Regions from separate parts of the Homo sapiens genome. Here region 2 is linked to region 1. Evidence: fine-mapped expression QTL. A gene starts in region 1. The other region holds a variant in brackets. All regions are shown on one strand. Distances are between the middles of the regions.

What was found.
Region 2: its variant is fine-mapped to the expression of NME1 in amygdala (GTEx, PIP 0.95).

The regions. Positions count from the first base shown.
Region 1 is chr17:51,151,737-51,154,651 of GRCh38, reverse strand. NME1 (NME/NM23 nucleoside diphosphate kinase 1) reads right to left here and starts at 1,093. Exons shown (of 5, transcript NM_000269.3): 1 at 990-1,093. NME1-NME2 (NME1-NME2 readthrough) reads right to left here and starts at 1,093. Exons shown (of 9, transcript NR_037149.2): 1 at 990-1,093; 2 at 208-427. RefSeq lists enhancers at 823-1,242, 1,026-1,557, 581-1,780.
Region 2 is chr17:52,132,411-52,135,325 of GRCh38, reverse strand. All of the region lies in intron 1 of CA10 (carbonic anhydrase 10), which reads left to right. Among named protein-coding and RNA genes, the nearest start is that of CA10, 25 kb to the left of the region's middle. The variant G/A (reference allele first, on the strand shown) is at 1,144.

The DNA.
Region 1 (2,915 bases):
CATTCCCAACCCATTAATCCATTCTTGTAATGTTATGCTACACTTTACAATGCAAAGAATATTTTGACTAGCCAATAAACGGTGGGGTGTGGGAGAACTACAGACATTAGGAATATCTGATACGGGACATCATACTGAAAGGAAGCCTAGAGAGTAACTATTCCGTCCAGATCCCTCATTTTACAGAAGACTGCGCTCATGACCTACCCTGTATCACAGCTTGAGATAGGAGGCCCCTCGCCTTGAAAGACGATCCCTAAAGTAGACAGTAGCACCATCTCTTGGCCCCATCTTCCTGTCCTTTAGTTAACCTCTTCTTACAGCATCTTAGCACTGTAGTCCAATTTTCTGTTTGTGTGTCTGCCTCCCCTGCACACCAGGCTGACTTAGTCCTGTGTAGAGACTCTATGGTACCTAGCCACAGGGCCTAGCAGTCAATAGGAGCAAAGAAAATCATTTATCACCATTCTGCAACTTCCAAAAAAAAAAAAAGAGAGAGAGACAAAGCCCAAAGACTGCGGAGAATCGCACGATGGGGTGCGGGGCAAGCATAAATTGTCCAGGAGAAAACAGGACTAAAGCGCCAGAAATACACCCTAAAAATGTCCCTCCACATCGGTCCCGGTGACACAACAGTAAGCACTCAGTGCTTGCTGAATGAATGACACACACACCCGTCATTTATTCAGCAAGCACTTACAGAGCGCCAACTCCGTGCCCGGCACTGCTCTCGACAGACACAAATAAGGCACAGCCCTGTCGTCGCGGCCTGACGAGAAAGGCGGCCACCGACAAAGGCGAGTCCACGTGGCGTGGGACGTGCGCCGACCGGTCTGCACTTGTCCACAGGCGCTCCCTGCCCCTCCTCCCATCCGATCCTCCTCGCCGCCTCTTAGAGCTGAACTCATCTCTTCACTAACTCCTCACCTAACCCACTCCCGCGACTACACTCCTTTCTTTTTCCTCTCAGGATCCCGAACACCTCTTACCCTTCCAGCTGCTTAGGTTTGAACTCCGGCTGCAGCCGCCAGCACCCGAAACGCGCCCGGGACCCACGTGGTTCGCAGCACTTGCACGCACGGAACGCTTCTGCGCAGATCCGCTGCCGGAGAGCCCATTTTGCAGAACACCGCTCGCCCACGCTTCCTCTTGGGAGTAGGCAGTCATTCTAGGGAACAACTTTCTGCAGTTTAACTTCCGGCGCTAGCTTTTTCAGACCTTTCCGGTTAGCTGCTTGCTTTCTTCTCTCCACCCCCGGGTTCTCTGACTCACTTCCTTCGTTCGCGAGCAAATTGGCTTCCCGAGAGGTGGCGCTCACACGTTGCGTGAAGTCCAAAGAGTGCCTGACCTAGAAGTAGACTTTTCGCTCCCGCTTTGTGTTTATTCACCTTTTCTAGCCTGTCAAGCAAAAAATTTTGAGTACCTACTACGTGGACGCATTATTCTAGGCCCTAGGGATAAAACAGTATGCTCTCTTGGAGCTTCTGGGAGGGATGGGAGTATAGGAAAACAAGAAGCAAATAAGCAAATTAATATGTAATAGATCGCATTTTGTAAGTGCTGTGAAGAAAAGGCCAGAGAAATCTCTGAGTAAGTGATAATAGAATAGACCTGCATGAAGTGAGGGAGCCAGCCCAGTGATTCTTCGAGAGCCAAGTATTACGGTGGACATCGAGTGGTGGAAAATGCCGTTAGAATAGAGCCAAATCTTATGTTGTGAGATGCTAATACAGATTTTGCACAAGGCATGACATCATCACTAACAAAAAAACATTCCCACTGCTCTAAGGGGAAATGAACGGGGGAAAGGTACAAAAATGGAATCAGGAGCCGTTTCAACAAATGATGCTGGAGCAATTGGACGAATATAGACCCAAAGAACCTCAACCTAAACCTCTCACCTTATACAAAATTTACTCAAAATGAATCATAGATTTAAATGTAAAACAATAAATCACTTATGGGGAAAAAAAAAGTTAAAAAAAATCCTCAGGACCTAGGGCCAGGCAAATAGTTTTTAGACGACACCAAAAGACCAATCTATACAGGGAAAAAGTTGATAAATTGGAACTTACTGAAATTTAAAACTTTTGGCCGAGCGCGGTGGCTCACGCCTGTAATCCCAGCACGCTGGAAAGCAGCGGCGGGAGGATCACTTGAGCTCAGGAATTCGAGACCAGCCCGGGCAACATAGTGAAACCCCGTCTCTACTAAACATACAAAAATGAGCCGGGCGTGGTTGCAGGCGCCTGTAGTCCCAGCTACTCGGGAGGCTGAGGCAGGAGAATCGCTTGAACCCGGGAGGCAGAGGTTGCAGTGAGCCGAGATTGCGCCAGGGCACTCCAGCCTGGGTGACAGAGCGAGACTCGGTCTCAAAAAAATAAAAAATAAATAAAATAAATAAGTAAAATTTCATTATTCTCCTGTTTTCTTTTTTTTCTTTTTGAGACCGAGTATCGCTTTGGCGCCCAGGCCGGAGCGCAGTTGCACGATGTCGGTTCATTGCAAACTCCGCCATCCGGGTTCAAGCGATTCTCGTGACTCAGCTTCCCGCGTAGCTGGGACTACAGGCGTCTGCCACCACGCCCGGTATTTTCTTTTTCTTTTTTTTTTTTTTTTTTTGAGACGGAGCCTTGCCAGGTCGCCCAGGGTGGAGTGCAGTGGTGCGATCTCGGCTCACTGCAACCTCCGCCTCCCGGGTTCAAGCGAATCTCCTGCCCCAGCCTCCCGAGCAGCTGGGATTACAGGTGCCCACCACCACACCCGGCTACTTTTTGTATTTTTAGGAGAGACGGGGTTTCACCATGTTGGCCAGGTTGGTCTCAAACTCTTGACCTCGTGATCCGCCCGCCTCAGCCTCCCAAAGTGCTGAGATTACAGGCATGAGCCACCGCGCCTGGCCCTAATTTTTGTAT
Region 2 (2,915 bases), 980 kb before region 1:
ATGGTCAGTGGTCTTTTCTCAGGCAAAAAAAGGAGGGGCAGCATCAGGTGGTTTGTTGGTATCAAAAGTGGAGTCTTTCCAAAGAGCTAGTTTCTGTTTATCCCTTAGGGAGGAAAGCCTAACATGGTTAGCGAGGGAGGGATATACTGAGGCATGTCTGACCTCTCATCCTGTCATGGCTGAGAACTCAATTTTTAAGGTTAATCTGGGGTCCCCTTGGCCAATAGAGGGTCCATTCAGTTGGGGGGCTTAGGATTCCATTTTTATTTCTCACAGGCGACCTCAGGAGGGCAGTCAGGAGGCTCTGGTGGCAGTCTGGGTTGGAGATGCAGGTAACCTGTTGAAGGTGATGGCACACATGGAGAGCAATGGCCAGCATCAGGAGCCGTTCAGGATGTGGATTCACAGAGCCTGATGAACTGTGTATGGTGGGGGTGAGGGAGAATGGTGAGTCAGAAGGAGCCCAGGGTTCTGGCTCATGCATGGGGTGGAGGATGGCAGTGACATCCATGGTGCCAGGGCACAGTGGAAGAGGCAGCTGTCATGCATAACCTGAGCTCTGCTTTGAGTCACACAGAGAATTGCAAAATACTGTGAAGGGAAGAGGCAGATGTGCAGTTGTAGGAGGGGAGAGAAAAAGAAATAATAACCTAAGAAAGAGAAGATGATTCTTTCTCCCAGAGAGTATGCCAGGGCATAAGAACAAACTTACTATTATTATTATTTTTAACTAATATTGGCAGAACCACTATTACTAGCTGCTGGTATTGATTGTTTAGTTCATGTTTAAACTTTACAATAGCCTTCAATTCTTACCGAAATCATGTGGGTAGGCATTATTTATCATGCCTATAGAGGTGAACAGACTGAGACTCAGTGATATTAAATAATTTAGTTAAAGACAGAAAGCTTGTGGGTGGATGAGCTAGGCTTTGAACCCAAGTTTGGCACTAGAAAGTACACTCATAACTCTTAAAGAAAACCATCATCTCCCAAGGGACAAATAAATAGGTACAAGGTTACAATAAGTTAAGAATAAAATACTGAGTAACAAAGAAGCTGATGGGAGGTTATTTTAGGATTATTTCTTGAAGAAGTTGAGGTTTAGGATTATTTTCTGGAGAACTTGAAACATTTTGTTTT[G/A]AATGGGTCTATATATGCCAAATCTTTGAATGTGAGCACATTAGTTCGAAGTAGGGAAGAAATGAGATTAATAACGTATAGAGTGAAGATGGCACTGGGGGAACAGCTCTTTGAAACATTCTGCTTTACAGCCTTTTATTATGCTACCTTGCCAGTGGATGAAAGCTGCAATGCTTAGCTTGGCTCACATCACCAGCATGATATGCTAAGACACCTTTATAGATCTCACTTCCTGCCTCCCCTCGCATGCACCCTGTACAGTCATAAAGCATCTTCCCTCCTTGGTTCCTTCTTCATTCATTAATCTTCTATTCATTAAGTGACCATTAATTGACCATTAGCTAATATGTGCCAGGAACTTTACTAAGTCCTGGGGATATAAGGATAAATATCCTCAAGAAAATGATGAGTGGCTATAATATCCAGAGTCACAATTCATTACACAATATTTTGAAATATGCTATTACAAACATTGTATCTATTAAAACAGAGGCCAGAAGAGGGTATGGCTTTGTCTAAAGGAGGTGAACTTTGAGCTAGAATTAAGAACAAGTAAAAATTTGTCAAATGCATAGAGCAGTCGGAAAAATGGAAAACAGTGTTCTGTAAATGTTGACATGAGAATTGAGCAGTTTCTGATATGCAACTGTTTTTTTTTTCTTGTTAACACTTTTTGCTTTGCTCTCCCCAAATCCTGAAGCCTCTTCTTCCAGTCTCCTGTTTTCTGTTTCCTTCCACCTCTTCACTGACTTTCCAGATTAAACTCTGCATTGCGGATCTCTGACAGTTTCTCTCCTGCTTTGCTAACCACTTTAAAAAATAGACATTTAAAGGCCTTCTGTGTGTCTCCTGCTATGTTATGGCTCTCCTGCTGTGTGAATTGAAGCTCCCTGCCCAGAGGACGGATGCCCCACCGCTGGGGCGCTGGAGGCTCCAAGGCTTACCTTAGAGGTTTGCACCATGGGCTGTGATGAATGGCAGCTTGGCTTTCGTTCCCCAAGGTCAGTCACCTGTTCCATGCCTGATTTCACCAAAGGGCATGGTACCAGATTGCTTGCTCACCAAGAAGGTGAGGCCCAGACAGGGCAGTGAAGCAGCTCCATGCAACATGGATTAGGTCCAGCCCAACTCCCAGCTTTTCCTTACCTTTGGAGTCATATAATCCTTATCTGCATACTCAGCCTGCCCATGGTCCTCTGCGCTACTCCTGAGAAGAGGTAGCACTGATTTAAGCCCTGTAATTCCACCCCATATATTAGGCTCTGCTCCAAGGTACCCTTGCTGTTGTCTCACTGTGGTCCTGTGCCTCGGTTGAGCCACGAGATGTCACCTGTGTCTGGACCAAGTCCCCAGTTTGTACCCCAGTCCTGATGAGGGCCCTCTCTTCTGTACCTGGTACATGCATTTCTATTGTGTTAACCTATACAAGGACCTTGGAATCTCTAGGCTTAGGGCCCCAAATCCTCCCTAAATTTGTTTCTAGAACTGCCTATAAGCTAACTTCACTAAAACCAAGTGTGCTCAGATGGCCAGAGCCTGAGGAAAGATGCTGAATTCTGCATGTTCACTGTGCCTTCATTCCCTGTTGCTGTGCCCCACATATAAGTCAGAAACCCAGAAGTCAGATATTGGTCTTCATTCTAATTATTCAGAATAATATAGCAGTTAACAGGTACAGCACACCTTTCTCCTTTACTGTGCTTAGTACTTTAGAAGAATTGACTCACATAGCTCACAACAGTTCCATGAGTAGCACTCTGTGGCACTGGGAT